Linked DNA regions of Homo sapiens: all the other regions are reported to be linked to region 1. Evidence: microRNA targets listed by miRTarBase, many of them from high-throughput screens and not tested one by one. Region 1 holds a microRNA gene; each other region holds the end of a gene's coding sequence.

The links. Region 1 holds the annotated microRNA hsa-miR-337-3p (CUCCUAUAUGAUGCCUUUCUUC, at 5,532-5,553, opposite strand). A microRNA usually pairs through its seed, bases 2 to 8, with sites in the 3' UTR of a target mRNA and lowers its output. Matches are read on the target gene's strand: a 7mer-m8 pairs with bases 2 to 8, a 7mer-A1 pairs with bases 2 to 7 and ends in A, and an 8mer does both.
Region 2: miRTarBase lists APOL6 as a target of hsa-miR-337-3p. Seed matches in the 3' UTR shown: 7mer-A1 at 4,233-4,239, 7mer-A1 at 2,269-2,275 and 8mer at 112-119.
Region 3: the mRNA of VASH2 is a reported target of hsa-miR-337-3p. Seed matches in the 3' UTR shown: 8mer at 5,133-5,140.

What each region holds. Positions count from the first base shown.
Region 1 is chr14:100,872,098-100,880,105 of GRCh38, reverse strand. It overlaps MIR337 (microRNA 337), which reads right to left and starts at 5,613; the gene lies at 5,521-5,613. MIR665 (microRNA 665) reads right to left here and starts at 5,073; the gene lies at 5,002-5,073. It overlaps RTL1 (retrotransposon Gag like 1), which reads left to right. Exons shown (of 4, transcript NM_001134888.3): 4 at 1-353. RefSeq lists a silencer at 2,701-2,911 and an enhancer at 6,265-6,434.
Region 2 is chr22:35,658,106-35,666,113 of GRCh38, reverse strand. APOL6 (apolipoprotein L6) reads right to left here. Exons shown (of 3, transcript NM_030641.4): 3 at 1-7,499. The coding sequence ends at 6,518. Among named protein-coding and RNA genes, the nearest start is that of APOL6, 14 kb to the right of the region's middle. RefSeq lists an enhancer at 5,156-5,265.
Region 3 is chr1:212,987,180-212,995,187 of GRCh38, reverse strand. VASH2 (vasohibin 2) reads right to left here. Exons shown (of 8, transcript NM_001301056.2): 8 at 3,603-6,676. The coding sequence ends at 6,604. It overlaps ANGEL2 (angel homolog 2), which reads left to right. Exons shown (of 9, transcript NM_144567.5): 9 at 1-3,006. The coding sequence ends at 147. Among named protein-coding and RNA genes, the nearest start is that of ANGEL2, 25 kb to the left of the region's middle.

The sequences.
Region 1 (8,008 bases):
TGACCCCGCCTTCCTCTTGCCCTGAGCTCTGGACTTACCTGGACAAAGCCGCTCTTTGGGGCATCCGGACGTACCAGTGCCACTTACCAGACTTGCACAGCAAAGAGGGCCCCTGCATGCCTTGGGGCGCCTTTCCCTCCCAACACTGAACACTGGACAGTGCAGGGGTGCAGGGGCCCCTCATACAGGGATGGAGTCCCAGAAGGCACACAGACACCCAGGGGACCATGCCGAGTCACAGAGAGGCTCTGGCCACACCACCGCTTTGCAAGGGGAGTAGACCCTTCCCCACCCCCCGAGCTTTCTCACCCCCCAATCTTTTTGCACTCCTCAAATAAAGCAAACTAAAAGACTGTCTGACTTTGGGGTTTGTTCTAAAAGTGGAGGTGGTGGGAGGATAGGCGGGGGAGGGGACACGCATGGGAGGAGGGAGGGAGTAGGTGGGGTGGACGAGGGGGCAAGTGGACTGGGCAGGAAGGGTGGGGGCAGGAAACGCTCTGCCCTGAAACAGCCCCTGGGGGCCTGGCACATGGGCAGCAGGCCTCCCCCAACCTTCCTGAAGGCGTCCCCACCAAGACTCTGGGCACTTCTTTCTGCCATGAGAAGGCACCCACCCCCACTGAGGCCACCAGGGACGTGCACCCCCCACAGGCTCATGTCAAAGAGAGGACAGAAGAGGTGCCTTAGGGCAGTGGGAGGCGGGGGAGTGGGGGCTGTCTCTCCTAAGGGTTCCAGAAAAGGGAGCCCCGAAACCCAGTTCCCACCTCTGGCCTTGGCCTCCTCGCCATGTGATTAACGAGGTGCGGTCTGAGCCCCACACTGCAGGGTCCACAAGCCCTGGTCTCAAGCAGTCCCTAACCCCCACTCCGAGAGGAAAAGTCCTGGGTCCCATTTCAGAGGGTCATGCTGTCCCCAAAGTGGCAAAATGGCTGTTGTGAGGGTGAGGGTGCACTGCCCTGGGTAGGGGAGCTGCCAGGGGTCCCACAGGGAGTTGGGGAGGTAGGGCAGGTGGCACTCACCCACTCTGAGTTCCCCCTCCACAGTCCAGGACATGCTGACCCCTCTTCCTGGCCATGGGTCACACCTATCCAGGAGTGGCCTCCAACCTCCCAGAGCACCCCCGCCCCACTGCACCCCTCCACAGGTGAGAGCTCTGCGAGGACACAGAGGGGAAGGAGCCGTGGGCCTCTCTCAGCATGACCTTGAACTTCATCTAGGAGGGCAAAAACACTGGAGCTCTGTGCACACGGGCCCCCATGCCAGGACACACCAGCTCTGCCCTCTCTGCCCTGCTGAGGAACCTGCTCCTGAAGACACACCGTGAGACCACCCAACAGATCTCAGGCTCAAAGCTCAGGGGCCCCGCAGGGGTCTGACTAGCCTGAGTTGGAGCCACCCCATCCCCTAGGAAAGCCATTTCCACCTGGCCCCAGAGTTCTCAGCTCCCACATGGAAGAGACCCTACTGTGTCCTCGAGGGGAGGCACGGGAGCATGACAGCCTCCAGACAGTGTGGCTCTGCCTCCTGCTCCTACCCATCGTGGACCAGGACCACTGGGCACACAGTGGGGAGCCCCTGACCAAGGACACACCCCACGGGAGCCCAAGGCTGGCACTGCAAGCTCAGCCTCCTTCCTTCCCTGCACTGCCCAGCCCCACACAGGGCTCACGATGCCCTCACAAGTCCCCAGGGGTGCCTGGCCTTCACCCACCATCCACCTGTCTGAAGAATCTACCCCTGATAGCAGCACCAGGAGATCATGGTCAGGATCTCCAGGTTCAAAGGCAGGGGCTACACCTCTGGGCTTCTCTCTCCCTCCACTGGCTGGCTGCAGGAAGGCCTCTCCCAGCCTCAGTTTCCTCATCTGTCACTCCAACCCACCAAGGCTGCTGTGAGGATTCAGAGTTAGGAATAAACTGCTGGGCACAGCTGGCACTCAGAGCTCCCAGCCCCATCCACAGACTTCTCATGTCAATTTCCCAAGGTAAACTTGGGGAAATCAAGGCCCAGAACCGGCTGCAGAGGAGCTGAGGACAGAGCCAGGATGGAGGCCCCTTCCTGGTGGCTGATCTTTGTCCTCTCACCTGGGCCACTTCACCCACTCTGCCTCCAGTCACAAGGCCCAGCAATGACCTCCACAACAACCAACATCACAGCAGCTCCAGGAGCTCAAGGGCACCATGTCTGTCTGTCCGTTCACCTAGCACTCTGCCTCTGATGGCAGCCCAAGACAGGCTGCCATGGGTTAAGGCCAGGGGCTCAGCTGCAAGAGGTGCAGATCCCCTTTAGTGACCTGGCCCCAGAAGGCCCCAACTTTGACTTGCTGGGTGACCTCAGGTAGTGGCTGTCCATCTTCCAGCCTGTTTTCCCATCATCAAATGGGGGATGTAGTGAGAGGGAGGGTCATTTCCAGAATAACCAGACCCAGTCTCCAAGGGCCGCTGGCTCCTAAAACCCCCTCTGTTCCCAGATGACATTCTTCTTGGGGCTCCCAAGTCCCTTGAAGTAAACTACCTTGGGATAGAGCCTGGGGTCATAATGGAGGGTCCCTAGATCAGGTCTCCTGAAGGCCACCCCTGGGGGGTCCCAGAGGCTGGATTTTAATGGCAAATCTCTGTCCCTGCTTGGTAAGGGCTCCTTGGGTAAATGTGGGGTGGATTGGCAGTCCCCGTGTCCCTGCAGCCAGGACCGTCGACGACCGCCATCCTTTCCTCCTGGCCATCAAAGATGGAGGGGCAAGGCCGGGTGCAGTGGCTCACGCCTGTAATCCCAACACTTTGGGAGGCCGAGGCAGATGGATCACCTGAGATCAGGAGCTCGAGACCAGCCTGACCAACATGGAGAAACCCCGTCTCTACTAAATAACAAAAAATTAGCTGGGTATGGTGGCGCATGCCTATAATCCCAGCTACTCAGGAGGCTGAGGCAGAGAATCGTTTGAACCTGGGAGGCGGAGGTTGCGATGAGCTGAGATCGCGCCACTGCACTCCAGCCTGTGCAACAAGAGTGAAACTCCGTCTCAAGAAAAAAAAAAAAAAAAGGTGGAGGGATGAACAGGACTACCTTGCAGGGTAAGGCCAAACAGAGAATTTACCAGCAGTAATCACCCGTGCCCCACAGTGGGGGAATCCAGACACGCGCTAAGGTAAGCGTATTTATCCACAGTTCACACACACACACACATATTGACTGGGGGCTCCCGGTGCTAGAGTGGCCACGGCCCCCCACACCAGCAGACAGTGAGGACCTCGCCTCCTTGGCTCCCCTGCCCCATCCAGCCACAGCAGGTTTAGTTTACAGAGAAGAGCGGCAGCCCCCAGGCCCAGAGGAGAACTACTGATAAAGTGATACAACGGACTCTGGGGACTCCAGGAAAAGGGTGGGAGGGGGTGAGGGATAAAAGTACAAACTGGGTTCAGTGTGTACTGCTCAGGTGATGGGTGCACGAGAATCTCACAAATCACCACCAAGGAACTTACTCATGTAACCAAACACCACCTGTTCCCCAAAACCTATGGAAATAAAAAATTCAAAAGAAAAATAATACAAACCTTTTTTTCTCCTGGGGAAAGAAAAAGGAAGGTTAATGTTAAATGTCATGCTGGGTTATGACATCATGGCCACCACAAAAAAAGGTGAAAACTCCTCTGAACAGCAGACAGCACAGCCTGGCGCGGACACTGGCACACAGGCCCACGGGACCTGGCGGGCCACAACTAAATGCACCCATCTTCCACCTTCTCTGTCCACCCCCAGGTCACTGATGTCAGGGGATGGAGGGAGCCCTGAGCTCCACTCCTGCTGAGTCTTGTCCATCAACCTCCCTTCCCGACCCAGCCCACCCCCATGAGATGCCCAACGTGCCAGCCTCCAGCCCTGGTGCACACAGGGCCAGTTTCTGGAACACTCAACAGCACACCACCCAGGCAGCTGAGGGCTACTCACCGCTCGGGTCCGGACTCGCTCATCCCTCCTGCAGGCGGCCCCAGGTCCAGTTAGGGCCTTGGACTCAGGCCCCCGTGCCAGGAGCTTGACCAGCTCTTAACAATCTGCCCAGGGCAGAGACGTGAGGTCCCCTCCTGCCCACCTGGTGACCCCGGTTGCTCCCAAAGTGAAAAAGAGAAAGACAACAAATAGAAGCCATCACCCCCACTCCCAAGCTCCACCCACCCGCTCAGAGCCCTGCTGCGGGGACGACAAGACCCTTGTCATGCCCCAAGCCCATGAGCACTGACCTCAGACCCAAACAGTAAGCCTCGTCCAGACCCCTGTCCACCTGTCTGAGATCAACAAAGACAAGCATACCCATCCTGACACCACAGAAGCTGAGGGGTAGACCAGGAAGGGAGCGGGTGCATGGGGGAAGCGGGGGTGAGGAAGGGGAGACGGGAGGTGGGAAGGAAGGGCAGGGGAGAGGGTGCTCCCTCCTGCAGGAAGGGAGGGGGTGCATTGGGGAGGAGGGGTGAGAAAGGGAAGATGGGAGGTGAGTGGGAAGGGCAGAGGTGAGGGTGCTCCCTCCTACAGGAAGAAGGGGTGCATGGGGAAGGAGGGGTGAGGAAGGGGAGATGGGATGTAAGTGGGAAGGGCAGAGGTGAGGATGCTCCCTCCTGCACCCTCTTGTCCTCTCTAATGGCCTCAGCTACTGCAAGGCCTCTCTCCCCACACTGGCTGCCCTGCTGCCCCGATGCTCATGCCTGGGCTGGCTGTCGTGGCTTGTTAATGGGGTTAATGATGCCAATATCACAGGGCTTGGTGCGGGTCACCTCTGCCATGCACAGGACCTGAGTTAGTCAGAGAGGCAGAAGACAGAGGTCCAAGAACCAGGGGCCACGGCCGTGCCCCCTGCTCATGTTGCCATTGGGCACCCTCAGGTACCCAGCCTGAGCAGGGTACGCACAGGGGAAGAAGGGAGCCCAGCTGACAGCTTCTGGGGACCCAGAGTTGGGAATCCTTGGGGAGAGGGGAAATGTCTCCAGAACAGGTTTAAGGAGAGAGTAAGAAGCCGCCTGTGAGGGGCCTCAGCCTCCTGGTCATGAAAGAGTCCTGGGTAGAGGCAGAGACCCCTCGAGGAGACCCTCCTCTTGGGGCACAGAAAGGGCCAGCCCTGGTCCGCCAAAGCCCCACCCCCTCCACCCTGGGCACAAAGGGGCACCATCTCTCCAACGTCTGTCCATCCATCCTGTGGGCCGGGTCCCTTTGGAGGGCTCTGTGTGGGAGCACAGCCCCAGCCCCTCAGTGGGAGAAGCCCCAGGGCTACCCAACTCCCCCTCCGGCCTATCTGCCCTTGGCTGTGGAGTCAGCCCAGGGGGTGTCCCACCAGGGGCATAGTTCCCTGCCAAGGAGGGGCCTCAGAGATGGCCCAGCCCCAGGCCCTCCCCTCCAGGAAGTCAGAGAGCTGCAGAAGAGAGAGAGAAGAGCCCAAGGAGCATGCCGGGAAGAGGCTGGCAGGACAGCAGCGGACTTGAGGACGCGTCCCCGTGCAGCCAAGGGTGCAGAGGAGGGTCCGGGGGCTGCGCGTGGTTGAAGGGGATGAAGAAAGGCATCATATAGGAGCTGGATAACTGTGCATCAACTCCTGTATGAAGCCGTTCCCACCCCCCAACTACTGACTACGGGCCGCAACCCTCCTCCCGGAAGCGCAGTGCAAGCGCTCGGATGGCAGAGGGGACGCCTGCTGCTAGTGGTTAGAGCAGTGACAGCAAGGGACAGCCAGCCTAGGCAGTGCCACCCACTGCTGGGCACCTGCAGCGCTGGGGTACCTGTCCACCCTGCCCAGCCTTGCCCTACCTGCCTCCTATGGCCAGGGCCTGGGCCTCCCTTAGCCCCACAGAGCCCCCAGGTGACTGTGCAGCCAGGCCAAGGGACGGAGGATGGGGAGGTGAAGGGGGAGACAGGCCTGATTCTGGCCCAGGTCTGTGAGTGGACATCGGGGACTCGACCCCACCCACCCACTGCTTTGACTCCCTGGTACTTCTCCAGCCTTGCCTTCTACATCTGTGAAATGGGTTGCAACAGGCACCTCTGGGGACCCAGTGAGGACTCATGAAGTCCAGGGGCACTTCAAGAATTTCCCAGAGACAGAAAGTAGATTTTTGGTTGCTGAGGGCTGGGGGGTGTGCATGGAGGGTGAAGGTGACAGCTGAAGGCTCTGGAGTTCTTTTGGGGGTGATGAAAATGATCTTAAATTGATTATGGTGATAGTTGCAGATATCTGTGAATAACTAAAACACACTTCGCTGTGAGCTTTAATGGGCGGATTGTGTGTATGTGGATTACATCTCAATAAAGTTGTACCCCAAAACACCTTCCTTTGTTCTTTGACATCTTTCTCAACCACCATACTGCCTGCCTCGTCCTACACTCTCCAGCCATCCACACCACCAACACACATGCACAGGGACACGCAGCCAGGCACGTGGTAGGTGGTGCAAAAATATCTGTGAGTAAATGACCTGATAATATAACATTCTCTGAAAGAGCCCATGGAGGGAAACCTTTAGGGAAAGGGGTTAAAGATTAAGAAGTAGGGGTGGCAGGAGGGTATGGAGGTGGGAAAGAGGCTCAGAGTGACACATGAATGGAAAAGGGGCTCAGATTGACAGACACATGGAGGGAGGAGGGGCTCCCTGTAACACATGGGTGGAGGAGGGGGCTGGTGTGACACACGGGTGGGGGAAGAGCTCCATGGGACACATGGGTGGAGGAGGGGGTTGGTGTGACCCATGGGTGGAGGAGGGGGCTGGTGTGACACATGGGTGGGGGGGGTTAGTGTGACACATGGGTGGAGGAGGGGGCTGGTGTGACACACGGGTGGGGGAAGAGCTCCATGTGACGCATGGGTGGAGAGGGGGTTGGTGTGACACATCAGTGGAGAGAGGGTTGGTGTGACACATGGGTGTGGAGAGGGGCTCCATGTCACATAAGTAAGGGAGGGGCTCAGGGCAATGCATGAGTGGGGGGAAGGTCTCTGGGTGATGCATGGGAAGGGGAGGACTTCAAGTGACATGTGAGAGAAGCTCAGGTGACACATTAGTAGGGAAAAGGCTCCTCATGACACATGAGTGAAGGAGAGGTGGAATGTGAGACAGAAAAGGGGCTCAGTGTGACGTGTGTGGGAAGAGAGTCTCTGTGTGACATATGGGGGGAAGGGACTTGGAGTAACACAAGAAAGGCGACTTGGTGTGACACGTGGGTGGGAAGAGTCTCTCTGTGACATATGGGGGCAGGGACTTGGAGTAACACAAGAAAGAGGACTTGATGTGACACGTGGGTGGGGGAAGATCTCACGGGACACAAGGTTGGGAAGAGATGCCCAGTGAGACACAAGGGTGCAGGGAGGGCTCCGCGTGTCAGAAGGAGTCCATGCAATACATCAGTGGAGGAGGAGCTCAGTACGACACGGGGTGGGAGAGCGGCTCAGTGTTATACATGCATGAGGTGAGGGGTCCATTCGACAAACGGGCAGGGGGTGCTGTGTGCCTTGTGAGTAGAGGAGGAGCTTCATGTGACATATGAGCAGGAAAGAACTCGGTGTAACACATGGACAGGGACAGGGGCTCCAGGTGACACATGAGTCAGGGAAGGGCTCTGAGTAACACATGTTGAAGAGAAACTCAATGTGATACATGGATGGGGAGAGGCATTCTGTATGACTTATGAGTGTGGGGAGAGACTACATGTGTGACACATGATTAGAGGAGGAACTTAGAGTGCAGCTGAATGGGTGGGGCTCCTAGTGACACACACGCAGAGGACAGGGTCAGAGTGACACCTAAGTGGTGGAAGGAGCTCAGTGTGCTACAAGAGTGGGAGAGGGGCGTCCTGTGACACATTAGTGGGGCTTGCTGTGACACCCTTAAGAAAGATAGAACATTCAGTGTGATACAAGTAGATGAGAAATTATTTGTGTCACATGGGTGGAGGCTCCATGTGACATATGAGTGGAGGAGGTGTCGAACATGACACAAGGATGGAGGAGGAGGGGCTCCATGGGACACCTGGGAGGGAG
Region 2 (8,008 bases), not on the chromosome of region 1:
AGTTATATTAGAATTATAGGAGTTTCACATAATTTTGGAACATACACCAATAACATATTTATACAAATACAGCCCAAAGAAAACCAAACACCATTTCACATTTGACAATGCTTCCTATATAATTTTTATACCAAATAAGCCAAATTATGTCATTTTAGGACTTTAGGGAAACTAAGATCTTAAAGGATTAATTAGGTTAGAAAAATACATAATTTATAATTTGATTTTGGAAAGCTTGTCAAATACAAAAGGTTTAAAACACTTGACATTACAAAATAAAATTACAGGTCATCGTAAAGTCATTTATTTAATCCAAGTGATAATTCAAGGATTTCAAAAAAAGCAAAAACCTTCATTCTTTGAGAGAGGTGACTTAACTTTCTAAACAAGAAGCCCTAATAAAAACAGCCTGAAGCCAATCACATTTGATTTTCAAAATTTTGTAAACAAACTATAAGATTTAATCTTGATTATAAAATATAACTTCCATAAGCCTTTTATAACCTTTATGAAGGAGTTGGTTAATGCTTCAAGAAAACCTTGCTAATCAGACACAGGGGTCCATATACTGATTTTGCATCAGTGTGCCTTTGACTTGAATGATTAGTTCATAGAGAAACTGAACTTACTGGATCTTTCAAAATCGGCCCTTACAATCTTACGCGCCCACCTCTTCCGCAATAGTCCCTGGGCCTTGAGGAGTTGAATAGCTTTAATTTCTTGCCTAGTGCCTCAGGAATGCAGTTTATTTTGATTGGCATCTTCTACGGGGCCTTAAGATGAGGCTTTGATTGTCATCAGTGTTTGTGATTTTTCAGACACAGGAGTTAAAGCCCTGTAACTCAATGTTACAAGGACTTTAAAAGCATACACAGGAAGATACATGGATGTAATAACCTTGATTTTTTAAAAATTAGCTCTTTCTTCCCTAAGCAAACCAAAACTTAATAATAATATGACAACTTGATTATATAAAAGCTTTTGGGGTGTGTGTGTGTGTGTGTATATATATATATAAAATCTTATCATGACTTACACCAATGTTCATGACATGCTTGGACTTTCTGGTTTGTCCTGAACATCCCTCCTTGTTAAACAACCAGTTATTTTATTTTAGGACTAAATTTACCATATAAAATTCTTTCTTATATAAAATTATTTCTTTTTCAGCTTTTTAACCTTGAAAAAATTCTTTATTTTTATAACTTTATTTACATTTTTTTTCTTTTCTGGTTCCTTTTACCTTGTTTTATATATAACCTTTTAATAAGCTTTGAATTAGACAAAACTTGTTCACCATTTTTTTAAAAAAGGACACACTTTTTTTTAAGCAACAATGTTTTCCTACAAGATATATTTATTGGAAAATACCCAAATAATAAATTATCTATTATTTAATTTAATATGACTTTATATTCTAAATTATGTCCAGTTGGTCTATAAGTATTTATCCCATTACATTTACCTAGTTATTTTATTAATTGTTTACCTAGATTATTTATAAAAACTGTGATAGTCATGATTTAAAGTTATGAAACTTCCATTGCAAAATTACAACTGAGACAGTGAAAAACGATTTGACCTAACTGACTCCACCTTGCTCTTAACTTCCAAGCTGTCCTTGTTCATTCCTGGGCATAGGCCGAATGAACTTTGGGAGGAACCTAGTTTAAGTTCAGCTTCGAAACAATGACAATAACAGTCCTTTCCCAAAACAAACCTCCTTATTGTCTGTGGACTAAACTGCCTAAAGCCACAGGATTAGAAGTTATGGTAATCTTACTAAATTCAAGATGCAGCTGTTTTCATTAAACCCATATCAATGTCTTATTTATTAAAAATTACACAAGCAAAGATCATTCTGTTTTGGGCTGGGTTTATAGTTTTATAACCCCTATGCCAAATTTTGACACCTTCTGGTATTTGGCAGGGATAAGTATAAAACTGTTTGATTAATATAATGCAAACAAAAATGTATGCTGGCAATTCTTAAGACATTTCTAATACTACTTTACCAATAATTTTAAAGCTACTTTATTTATTAAAGATTTTACTTAAGTTACATAAATTTGAAAAAGCATTTGACTAGCCTTTTCTTTTTTAGTATCTGATTTAAGCACTTTTATTTTTCTTTAAGCCAAGTAGAGCTCTTTTACATATTTTTAGCACTAAAACATCGTGTACACAACACATACATACATATAAAGACGTATTAGGCATGCCAATAGAAGTACATTTTATAGATTTATAATGCCCCCCCACTTTTTTTTCCTATCTTAGACTTTCAGATTCTTGATAACCTGTTTTACAACCCTAGGCAGTTGTCAGCTAAATAGCCTTAAATTTTTGCACATTAAAGGAAACAACCCAGGTGAAAATCAAATAGCAAAATTTACATGATAAGGTACAGAGAGGAAAAGTCTGGTGGTGTTAGAGGGAGATGCTTTTATTTTTCTTTGAGCGATATTAAACATAAAACGAAACTACATTCTTCCTTAACCCAAGAGTAGCCTCTGTTGCAATAGCTATTTTAGTCAAAAAATCCGGTGAAAACAGAATTCAGTCAACTGAGAAGTAAAAGGAAAAAAAAAAAAAAAACTTTTGCTACAAAAAAAAGACAAGGTCTTAGGAGAGAAAAACAAACAAGAAACAAAAACATGAAGGCCTTTCAAATACAAACATGCACAAAACACACATCATGGATGTTACTGTTTCAGTTAAGCAGACTTTCAACCACTGAGCTTCTTTAAAAACTTAAAAAAAAAATCTTATTACCAAATCTCAGCTAGGACAAAGTGTTGCTATTTCAGAAGTACAGCCATTGCTCTTTGAGTTTGGTCTGGCTAGCAAAAAGCTGGCTGTGTTATGTAAATAAAGCCCCTATAGTAATTAAAATTTAAAAAAAGTTTTTTAAGCTGGCTGTTTTCCTACCACTTCAGAGTCCTTGACCCCGTAATTTAGGGTTCCCCTTCAGATTTGACTAAGACAGAAACAAACAACAAAACAGTTAAGCAAAACTAACAATGGTCACACAAATTATACAATTTCTGAGTGCTCTAAGTGCATTGGAAGAAAGCTGAAACTCCATAAAAACATCACCTGCCTTCCATCATCATGAAAGCAGGAAAACTTGCCTTCCTTGTTGGGAGCAAGTAAAACTCCAAAAAAAGAGGTGTTGTACAGCAAAATAAACTTCCGATCTCTACCAAATTTTAAGAGATCAGGGATTTTCTGGAGGGAGTCCTCTCAGACCTCAGCAAATTGTCCTATTGGTTTGAGCCATAAAGTTAGCTCATGCTGGTACCAAGCACCGATAGATTTGTCAAGGGTCAGGGGCATCTCCACCCAGAATCCATTCATGGTTTCCAAAATGTGAACCCAGAAAATCCGAGACAGGTCTCAGTTAATTTAGAAAGTTTATTTTGCCAAGGTTGAGGACACACTGTGACACAGACTCAGGAAGTCCTGATGACATGTGGCCAAGATGGTTGGGGCATACCTTGGTTTTATACATTTTAGGGAGACATAAGACATTAATCAATATATGTAAGAAGAACATTGGTTCAGTGGGGAGGGAGCTTCCAGGTCACAGATAGGTGAGACACAAACAGTTGCATTCTTTTGAGTTTCTGATTAGCCTTTCCAAAGGAGGCAATCAGATATGTATCTATCTCAGTGAGCAGAGAGATAACTTTGAATAGAGTGGGAGGTGGGTTTGCCCTAAGAAGTTTCCCTAAGCTTGAGTTTTCCTTAGTGATTCTGGGGCCCCAAGATATTTTCCTGTCACAGTTGACATCCCCAACACAGTGTTTAGGGCTCAGAAAAAGATACCCTAAAATAGGGTGCTTTGGCATGCTGAGTGCTTTGAATAAAGGAGACTGAAGGGCCTCAGAAATAAGAGAACAAAGGTCTATCTCTGACCCACTGCTGCCCACCTCCCTTCCCTTCCAAAGCACAGGGAGGGATTTTCTTTGAAGTTCTCTTATTTGATTAAGGGAAGTTTCTCCAGAAGGAAGGTAATTGTCCTGGACACCCCTTCCTGGAATCTACATCGATCAGAGAAGATTAACTCATATTGCAGGACAGGAGAATAATTAAAAGTTGCTCAAGACAGCACACCTAGATAGACTTTTTGCTTATTCTTTCAACTATAGTTATGTGTCCAATAACAATGTTTCGGTCAACTGCATATACAACCATGGTTTGATAAGATTTATAGTGGACTTGAAAAATTCCTATTGCCTAATATACTGAAGGAAGAAAATGTTTTAATATGCATTTTGTGTACCCTAAGTGTGCTGTGTTTATAAAGCCTACAGTAGTATACAGTAATGCCCTAGGCCTTCACATTCATTCACCACTCACTGACTCATCTGGAGCAACTCTCAGCCCTGCAAGCTCCATTCGTAGTAAGTGCCCTGTACAGGAGAGCCAATTCTTATCTTTTATGCCATATTTTTACTTTCCTTTTTCTCTGTTTACATATGTTTAGATACACAAATATTTCCCATTGTGCTGCAATTGCCTATAGTATTCAGTAGTCACATGCTGTACAGGTGCGTAGCCTGGGAGCAATAGGCTCTCCCATATAGCCTAGGTATGCAGTAGGCTATGCCATCTAAGTTTTGTATAAGTACAATCTGTGATAATCACACTACAATGCAATTGCCTAATGACACATTTATCAGAATGCGTCCCTGTCACCAAGAGATACATGACTGTATTCTTCTTCTTTTTTTTTTTTTTTTTTTTTTTTGAGATGGGGTCTCATTCTGACACCCAGACTGGAGTGCAGTGGCATGATCTTGGCTCACTGCAACCTTTACAGCCTGGGTTCAAGCGATTCTCCTGCCTCAGCCTCCCGAGTAGATAGGATTACAAGTGCCCTGCCACTACACCTGGCTAATTTTTGTATTTATAGTAGAGACAGGGTTTTGCCATGTTGGCCAGGCTGTTCTCAAACTCCTAACCTCAGGTGATCCAGCTTTATTAGTGTAATTACACTTTATCAGTGTAATAAGGCAAACTTTGCTCACCACAGACTTCCTCCCCCTACCCCCTCCCACAGCCTGTGTCACTACCTCCCCATCAGAGGCCTCACTTCCTGTAGCTTGGGGTGTTATTTAAGCTTCTGCCATCTGGCCCACATTAAAAAATGTATATGCTTTTTCTCCTGTTAATCTGTCTATTGTCAGCTTGTTTTATAGATTCAAATTCTTAAACCTTCAAGGTCTAGAAAGGAAGTTCCTTCTACCCCTCCAATAGTATAAAGAAGTGGAGCCTTTTGGTAGGTGATAGAGTCATGAGGGCCCTGCCTTTAGGCATAGAGTTAGTGCCTTTATAAAAGAGGCCCAGGGGGGCTTGTTTGCCCCTTCTGCCATGTGAGAACACAGCAAGACAGTGCCATCTGTGAAGCAGAGAGTGAGCCTTCACGAGATGTGGAATCTGCTGGTGCCTTGATTTTAGACTTCTCAGCCTCCAGAACTGTGGATCTCTGGATACATCTCTGTTGTTTGTAAATTACCCAGTCTAAGGTATTTTGTTATAGCAGCACAAACAGACTAAGACACTTGGCGAGTGACATAACCTGTCTGGCTTAGTCATCTTTGGTTGCTATAACAAAATAGTAACAAACTACTATAGATTGAGTTGCTTACACCACAGAAATTTATTGTTTCACAGTTCTAGAGGCTGGAAGTCCCAGACTGACTGACTTATTCAGTTCCTGGTGAGGGCTCTCTTCTTCTGCCTTGCAGATGGCTGCCTTCTTGCTGCATCTGCAAATAGCCTTCCTTCAGTGTAGGTGTGCAGCAGGGGTGGGGAGGCCCTCTTGTATTTCCTCCTCCTCTTATAAAGAAGTCAATTCCATCGGGTTAGGACCTCACCCTATGGCCTCAGTCAACCCTAATTACCTCCCAAAGGGTCCATCTCTAAATACAGCCACATTTTGGTTTAGGACTTCAACATATGAATTGGGAGGAGGAGACAATTTAGTTCCTAACTCCGCCTGTGGCTCTGTGACCTCTTTGTTAAAACTGGGAAGACCCGGCTGGGCAGGGTAGCTCACGCTTGTAATCCCAGCATTTTGGGAGGCCAAGGTGGGTGGATCACTTGAGGTCAGGAATTCGAGACCAGCCTGGCCAAAATGGTGAAACCCTGTCTCTACAAAAAAATACCAAAATTAGCTGGGCGTGGTGGTGCGTGCCTGTAATCCCAGCTACTTGGGAGGCTGAGGCAGGAGACTTGCTTGCACTCAGGAGGCAGAGGTTGCAGTGAGCCGAGATTACGCCACTGCACTCCAGCCTGGGCAACAGAGACCCTGTCTCAAAACAAACAAACAAACAAACAAACAAACAAACAGGGAAGACCCTTTTCCCAGCACATAGGCCTTAAGGAGCATTGAAGGAGAAACAGAAGGCATGCCGAGGTCTGTCCAGGACAGGCACCCTCATCTCCAAGATGTACTTGATATTATTTGGACCTCCAAGGCCATTGTATGCCATGTCCTGAGGAACATTCATGTAAACTGTACATACACACAGACACACAGACACACACACAGCCACAGCCACATCCACACATGCTCCCTTAACTCCTTCCAGTAAGCCTCGGTTTCGCAGGTCCCAGTTAAATCCTTCCCCACCCCTCTGGCCCTTGACCTCACTTTCTGCTGCAAGCTCTTGTAGAGCTGGGTGAGTTCTGTGAGTTTCCTCTCCAGCTCCAAGGCCTTGGCTCTCAACTCTTCCGCAAACTTTGTCCTTGCTCCTTCCTTCAGGTGCTTCCATTCCTTTGAGAGAGTGGCCAAGTCATAGCCAAGGGAGAAGGCGGACATCACACCTCCCAGCACGCGAGCATTTTTGGTCATCGCCAGTGTTGTTCCCGCAAAGGCCTTTTGCACCTGCACGCGGCTCCGGGAGGAGACTTGGCCAGTGGTCAGAAGACGCTTGGTAGCATTGGCCAAGCGTGGGTTGGCTCTGAGTTTCCAAAATGCACGGACGTTTTTCTTGGCATACTTCAAGGTGTTTCTAAGATTATAGATAATCTTTCCAGCAGCTGTGACATAGTCTGCCTTCTCTTCCTCATCCTCCCTGTCCTCTTGGTCGTAGGTGGGCAGTATGTCTTCCGCCCGTGCTTGGGCTTCTTTATTTTTGGAGCGTTCCAACGTACCACTCACGATGCTGGTGACCCCAGCTGCTGTTGCCAAACCTTGACCAGCGGTGGAGAGCAGCAGGCTTCCTCCTCCTGTTGCTGGGGCAAGGGCTAAACCCAGGAGGCTCATCACTCCAGAGATGACAGCAGTAGAGGTGGCCACCATGTTAGCCTTGGTGAATTTCTTGTGGGTTTTGTCAATATCGTCTGCGAGGGCACGGAGCTTGTCAATGTTCCCTTTCAGATCTTCTTTCAATCTGGGAAATTCTCTCAAAAATATTTTTTCTTCGGGGGACAGATCTCCGTCTTGTAGCTCCACGTCTTCACACAGAGGAGCGTCATCCTCATCCCTGAGGAGAAATGAAATAAAGATTTTGCTTCAGCTTCCCAGATGGGAAAACCCATGTGGCTCTTGGATATTCTTGCCACTCTCAGCTTCGAATCCTCCCTGTACCTCCCTACAAAATCCCCTGAAAAGTCCTAGAGCATTGTAGAGTAGTTCAGCCTTCGCTGAAAACTACTGGTTCCATGGAAAAAAGAAACACATAAGAGGGGCATGTGGAAGGACAAATGTGAATCACCCCAGCCTTGGTCAAGGAATGGGGAAGGAAAATTAAGTCCTGAGGTATGTTTTCAGCCTTGTTCAGAGAAAGCACAGCACTGCTGCAGAGGAGGGGCAGTGGGGAAATGTTAAAACCCCACTCAAGATAAAGAACTTGGGAACAATGGCGGGAGAGTTCTGGGAAAAGTAGGAGAAAGAGAAGACAAGGTGGTGGGCAGGGGATGAGCGTCCCAGATGTGTAGAAGTGAGTAGGAGGGTGGAGGGGGCCATATTGCATCATACATCCTCCACTCTAAT
Region 3 (8,008 bases), not on the chromosome of region 1:
GAAGTTGCTTTGGTTGGTGGCTTGAAACTTCTAGCTAGACTGTCACTTCTTACAGAACAAGACTTATGGACTGTTAATGGACTTCCAAACGAAAATAACTCTTCAGATCATCTGCCTTTATTGGCAAAGTTCAGACTTGAGCTCTGACTCTCTTTGATCACATACTAATTTTCTTTCCAATTTGTATTGTTTTTCAAAGAATGTAAAGTTCTTAAGTGTATGCATGTTGTTTATTTTTGCACTGTGGAGATTCTGAAGCGGTTATGTTAGATGCTTTGAAACTCCATATCAGAAGAAATAACTTTATAACAATTTTTTTTAATAATGAAAAATATTTTCGTGACAAGTGAGCTCTAAATTCTCTTTATTGTAAAAGAGATGTAAAGGTTTTATATTCTAAATCCTAGTAAAATTGACAGTGATTTTTAAATATAATGCATCTTCCTTTGTCTGCTTAGTAAAAAATTTCATTTCATAATTTTGGCAAGCTCTGTAGTGGATCCAAAGTATCTTTGAGTTCTTGCAAACTACAAGTTGTTTCCTTTCCAGAAGGCTTGATTTCATTAGGAGACCCCTCTATTGAGTTCTAAATAGTTTATCTTAGAAAGCCTTGGGTCATTCACAGGTATCCAACCAGCCATTGTTTAGTTTGTTTTTGAAGGGGTTTGATAATGCTTTTTAAGTTGTACAGAATGCTTAATCCATCTTATTACTGTCCTGAGCCATGTAATATGCCTGCATCGTGTTGGGGAAATGTTTGGGAAATATAAGCCAGCATAACGTGTAAAGCTCACTCTTTCACCCTGGAACAGACAAGAGGTGGGCTTAATAGAGGCAGAGACTGGGGATATACCTTTGTTTCCCTAGCATTTTTATTTATTTATTTTTATTTTATTTTATTTTTTGAGATGGAGTTTCACTCTTGTTGCCCAGGCTGGGGGTGCAATGGCGCAATCTTTGCTCACTGCAACCCCTGCCTCCCGGGCTCAAGCGATTCTCCTGCCTCAGCCTCTCGAGTAGCTGGGATTACAGGCATGCGTCACCACTCCCAGCTAATTTTGTATTTTCAGTAGAGACAGGGTTTCCCCATGTTGGTTAGGCTGGTCTCGAACTCCCAACCTCAGGTGATCCGCCCACCTCAGCTCTCAAAGTGCTGGGATTACAGGCGGGAGCCACTGCACATGGCAGCATTTTTTAAAAATTCAGTTTTAAGATCTCTGGTTTAGGGGAGAGATTTTATTTTACTGAACCAGTTCTATAGAAATTTATTTTATTAGGAAATTTGTCTTTGGAACAAAGTGGCAGCTATAAAATTATTTTTGTTAAGCCTCAGAAATATGAGGAAGCCTGTAAAACTCTAGTGGGGAGATATTAACTTGGAGACCTAATGCTCTGTAAATAGTCATTTAAACTGTTGGTTTTAGTGGTTTTGTTTCTAAAATGTTTTCTTTTACCGTGATGCACCAGTATGAGATGGTGCTGACACTTTCTATGAAGTGGTTATGAGCAGGTTTAATAAATCCTCTATACAAGTGTTTGAATCAATTTTAAAACATAAAAAGTGGAAATTTCCTTTTTTGTAGACAGTAGGAACAAGGAATTATATGCATTTTTACTAAGTAGTAATTTTACACTGAATTGTAAATGTTTTTACAGTGAGTTTTATTAATAGAATGCTTCACCTTAAATTGGAAAACAATAATAGTCTTGGACTAAGTCTTTGTACTAAAGCATTTGCTATAATTATTTTTAAAAAAACAAACAGATGAAAACCTCAGAGAAGGCATGTGGATTATAAGATTTGTCTAGTAAAAATTGTAATTGAATATGTTTAAATATTTAATTTCTCATTTTGGGGGGTTTTTATTTTTTTATTTTTTAGATGGTGTCTCACGCTATCGCCCAGGCTGGAGTGCAGTGGCGCGAACTCGGCTCACTGCAACCTCCGCCTCCTGGGTTCAAGCAATTCTCCTTCCTCAGCCTCCCAAGTAGCTGGGATTACAGGCATGCACCACCATGCCCAGCTAATTTTTGTATTTTTAGTAGAGATGGAATTTTGCCATGTTGGCCAGGCTGGTCTTGAACTCCTGACCTCAGGGGTGATCCACCCGCCTCGGGCTCCCAAAGTGCTGTGATTACAGGCATGAGCCACCATGCCTGGCCTTTGGGGGGATTTTAATTACAGTATTAATTATAGTTCTAGGATTTCCCACATTTTATAGTAGTAGTTTGCAGGATATTATGTGCCCTAATTAGCAGATATAGACATTATCAAATTATAATGATAGTATAATTATCCCTTTTTAATATTGGGGAAAGAAAAATGAAAATTCATTAGTTAATTACTGCTTTGTGTTGTGTGAATTTATTAACAAATAACATTATTACATATAGGTCATTGTTAACAAACAAACATCCCTGAAAACCTCTGTGAAAATTTAATTTTTTATATCCTGATTAATATATTGTGACTTTAGGCCCATTTTTCATGTGCTTCACTTTGATAGAGTTAATCCATAAAATTGCTCTTTACTTTAGCTTATCAAATGAAGTATTATTTTGTGGACTGGAGGCCAAAAAGTCAATGTGAGCTTCTCACAGGTTTTTAAAGCTCCACTAAAAATAATTATCCACTTGTCTTTACTTTTGTTGACCAGAATAGTTGGTAACTCTGCCAGAGCCTGTACTTACCTGCCAAAAACAATTAAATCTGGTTAATGCCTGAAACCAAATCTCTCAGTCTCAAGTGTTATACTATCCAAGTTTTAAATGGAAAGGTAAACTGTGGAGTAATGAAATTTTGGTTTTACTGTACCTTTTGCTATCAAGATAATATTCATGTTTGAAATCTTGTCTTTATTTGGAATTTAGTTACTGTCTGCTTTTAACCTTTGCTTTCCTAAAGAAAGTTTGAGATCCAGAGAGTTCAAGGGATTGGGGAAAGAGAGGCGTCAAGTCATTTGCACTTTGTACCTGTAAGTTAGGTAATAAACTATTATACTCGTACTTCTGTGCCTGAAGGTTTTGTGGTAGGTATACTGAGATGTATAAGCTGTACTGTTGCCTTTACTAAACTATTTCATTGCCCTTTGCAGCCATTTTTACTTAGGGGTGATGCTAAAAGATGAGTGAATTGAGATATGTCAAAATAGAGTGATAGAGTGTTTTTAATATAGAGTCTGCAGATTGTGAAAGAAGGGTGAAAGAACGATAAATAGGTTCAGTAGAATAAATATATAATAAGAGGACCAAAAAAAAAAATCACACCATCTTACTTTTTTTTTTTTTGAGACTGAGTCTTGCACTGTTGCCCAGGCTGGAGTACATTGGCGGGATCTCAGCTCACTGCAACCTCCGCCTCCCAAGTTCAAGCGATTCTTCTGCTTCAGCCTCCCAAATACCTGGGATTACAGGCGCCCGCCACCATGCCCGGCTAATTTTTTGTATTTTTAGTAGAGACAGGGTTTCACCATGTTGGTCAGGCTGGTCTCGAACTCCTGACCTCAGGTGATCCACCCGCCTTGGCCTCCCATAGTGCCGGGATTACAGGCTTGAGCCACTGAGCCCGGCCACATCTTACATATTTAGAAGAAAAACAATCCTTAAGTTTCCAGGATGGTTTTATTAAAGTCCCATGCTGTGTTAGAAACATACAAGTGATGAGAAAAACATTAACTTGAAACATGCACTTACTGGCATTCTCTAAAATACCATTATACAAGTTTTCATTTAATTAGAAAAATACCCACTAAAACAATCACAGTTCTTCTTAAAGATTTAAAAAAAATGTATTGGCCAGAACAAAGTCCAAGAGAATAAACAAAGTTCTGAATTGTATGTCAAAAAAACTGTACAAGGTTGTACATAAAACTATAGCTTACAAAAGACTCAGGTATAGTAAGAATTCTGAATTAAGATTTCCAAAGTTCTATTTACCAATATCTATTAATAAAATCCTTATGAAATAATTGACTTAGAAAAAGTGAAATGCTCATGATTTCAGAGTGTATAGAAAATACTAAATATCTCCGAAATAAAGTGTACTCAAAACAGCACAACATACAGTCTAAAATCAAGATTTCTGTCATTCATTTAAACTTTGCATATATTGCCATGATGGCTTAAACATAAAATTTCTCTTGCACTAACAACTTTTTAAAACCGATTTCAAATCACTTCATAGTTTTATTTTTTATATTTTGAATTCTAGCCAGTCTTAAAATCAGCTTTGGGAGGGGGGTGCATATAACATGTTTTTTGTTTTGTTTTGTTTTTTGTTTTTTAAATTATTGCACTAGAATTTAGGGGTTTGGTGCCTCTCCCGTATTTTTTTTAGAAATTAGCATATTCCATAGGCAATAAAAGTAGGATGACAACTAAGAACATTTTAAATGTACTTTCAAGTTTGTGTGACTAAACCTTGCTTTGGGAAAATTAGTCTAAAAATCAAGGAGCGGGTGTGGGAGAAATTAGCTTACTAATTGAACCATCAAGCCAGTTGGCAGTTCTAAGGCTTCTTTATCAGCATATTACAGAGTTTGTATTCCTGTTCTTTTCCTCCTTGTTGTGGGAAACAAGCTATGCAACCATTTGACATTCTGTATTTTAGATGTAACAGTACTTAATACTTGGCAAAAATAAATTCCAACTCTTAGAATGGTTGCAGTGTTATAAGAGGTCTACTTATTAGATGTAAGCAAGTTTCAGATTGACAAACAGAAGGTATATGGCTAAGTCAGTATTGTTTTAGAATGAAAATGAAATGATTCACTATTTCAAACATCTGAATACATGTGGCCAAGAGGCTGCGAATGGGTTTGCTGTGTGTAGATAAACAGAGCTAACTCATTTTAAACTCTGATAATACTGTTCTTAAAGAGATTAAACTGATAATTTTTAACCCTGTGCTACATTTTAATCTAATGGAGATGTATACTTGGTCTTGTTCATCTAAAGGACATTCGACTTCTTTAAGAAAACAGTACTTTTCATTAATAATACTGATTTTCAGGGTGAAGTAAGCTCTTGTGCACCCTTTTGCTTTGAAGTCCTTTTGCTTTCCCTGTCACCCCCAGAAATCTTGTAAAGAATTGGTAAAGAATCTCAATGAGCTTTTTTTTTTTTTAACTTCCTTCCTATAAACACCTTCAGTCAAAGAAAGCCAGAGGAGATGCACTGAGACTGAAATAACATCTGTTGACTACCAGACTTCACTGAAATCGGCCGTCTGCTCTCCTGAGTTGGCATTGTTGCTAAGATAAAGCAAATGAAATTGAAGCTGTACTCTTGATATTTACACCATACAAGACTAGGCTGTTAGGGTTGTCCTGTGTGGTCTGCAGCCAGAGGTTACACTGTAACTACCATATGCAGGCCAGACATTCATTCTGTGCTTAGGGACTGAATTACACTATAAGGTGTAACACTGGACCGAAGACTTTTCCATTAAAAAAAAAGTGCTGCTTTTCTAATTCTTTATATTTTCCAATACTCATTCCTAAAATGTCATGAAATGGTACCTAAAAGCAAAGTACTGGAAGATAATCACATCATGTCACATTTGGTCTTAATATAAGACATCAGAACACATCTTTAACAGTGAGTCCTCCCTTAGTTTGATTCTTGGCATCCTTCAGAAGAATCAAAGCCTGCCTCAGTTTAAAAATCAGATGAAATGTGAACAGAAAGGTTTTTTGGTTCTGAAGACCTGCTGATCACTCCTGGTCTCTGCCTGAGTGTGTTAATGTCAGAGGTAAATCCAGTACCGCTAAATTTGTATAATAGTACGTGACCTCTTGTGCTTTTTGTTAGAGTCTGCAAAGTTTAAATGTTAGTGACAGAACATAGACTAGCTTCTCAATGTGATATTTTTGTTTCATTTTGAAAAAACAAAAACATCAGTGAATGCTTTAAGAAAGATTAAGAAGGAAGTAACTCCAAGATCCTGAAAATGGTTCTTGTATTGCCAGAAGAATTTCAGTGCTTTTTAGTAAAACACTTGCATATAGTACCTTAAATCTCCTCACGTGTGTGCACCAGGAAAAAACTCCAAACTTGTGGAGATCCCCATGGGAAATACTGGGGAAAGAATACAAATAGAATATAAAAAAACAAAACGCCATTAAGTTTGCATATCTGATGTCAAAATGCTGAGGTAATAACTGCTTAAAAAAAACCCACCCATTTTTGCTTTCTGTTATTGCTGAAAAAGACAGTAATACTGTTAGAGTTACCTTACTATACCAAAAGTTCAAGAGATTATTTCATGAACATTTACTATTGGTGAGGCATAATGTTCAAAGCAAGTAAAAGAAAGTAGGTAAATGGAAAAATATAAAACTTCAGTTACGGTTATCCTTAAGATCTTGAGTGAGGGACATAGTCCAACCCCAGTGGGGCTTATTACTTCAGCCTTTTCATGGTGCCTTTTAGTGAATTTTTTAAAGCTAATGGTTACCACCCACTCAGATTCTATTTCCAGGTGAATCCTTAAAAATAAAATTCACAAGTTCTTAATAAATAGTTGCAGTTCCTCCTGAAGATGCTGGGTAAAGTGCAGAGAGAAGCACCACAGAAACCCTCTTGCTGGCCGGTATGGCTTGGCTAAATTCGGATTTGATAGCCCACTTCATTCAGAGTGCTCAGATCAGCCACCTTCTTTTCAGGCAGTGCAGGCCTAAGGGTAAAAGACAGAAATATGGTGGAGGAGAGGGGATGGGGCAAAGAAAGACAACAGCATTTTCAAGGTCCTCTACTCGGTTTTCCTAATCCTTCTGATATTTGTCTCATCCTCCCATTCCCCCACCCTGCCAGCCTTAGCTCACAACTCTACTTCTTGTTCTTAAGTCCACCTTTAAAGGTTTTAAGGAACATTTTAACAGACTTTCAATGTAGAGTTCAGAAAAGTTTTCAGGGTGTGGAATGAGCTTCTGCAGCTTTAAGCCTGACTTTGGTCACATTATAGCTTTTGAAACCCAGTACTCTTGAACCTTGCAAGGGTCTAAAAGTCACATACACTACAGTAGAGCCAAGAATCTGAGTCAAATTCTCCTTGAAACATTGGCTTCCTAGTGTTCGTGTCCTGGAGGAAGCCCAGGAATCAAAGGTGACTCACGTTCCCAGGGAGCGGTTAATGTTCAGGCTTGAATGTATAAAATCAAGGTGAATCTTAGGATTCATCTGAAAAAGCATGTCAGTGTGGAAAATCACTCAGTGGCAAAACATCTCTTCCCTAGAAACGTGCTAAAGTCACTTCCAACATAAAACTACAACTAAGCAATTATGCAAAGTCATGTGAGAAAGTACTTCAAGCTGGGAAATACAACATTCACATCAATAGCACATCATCTGTCTTCATTAAAGATGCGTCCTAAATGACTTCCAATATACGATTATGCCTAAACAATCTCACAATGTATCTTACAACTTTTCCATTTCTTAATGAGCCTCTTCTCACCTTGGATAAGAGAGAACTGAGATCATGAATCAAGTTTAGGATATTCAGTATGGCTAGTGAGTTCTAATTCAAAAGTTTCACATCCATTTTTGCAAGAAAAAGACATGTTTAGGTTACACATAAACCTTGTTTTTGTTTTGTTTTTGTTTTTGTTTTTGAGACGGAGTTTCGCCCTTGTTGCCCAGGCTAGAGTGCCGTGGCACAATCTTGGCTCACTGCAACCTCTGCCTCCCCAGTTCAAGTGATTCTCCTGCCTCACCCTCCTGAGTAGCTGGGATTACAGGCATGTGCCACCACACCTGGCCAATTTTGTATTTTTGTAGACATGGGGTTTCACCATGTTGGTCAGGCTGGTCTCGAACTCCTGACCTCAGGTGATCTGCCTGCCTCGGTCTCCCAAAGTGCTGGGATTACAGGTGTGAGCCACCGCACCCAGCCGAACCTTGTTCTTAAGTATTAAAAAAAAAAAAAAAGACCAAAAAGAAAATATAATTGTTAGAAGGTTTCTTATTTTATGCCCTTGAAAGATTTCCTAACAGCTAATGGTTTTTC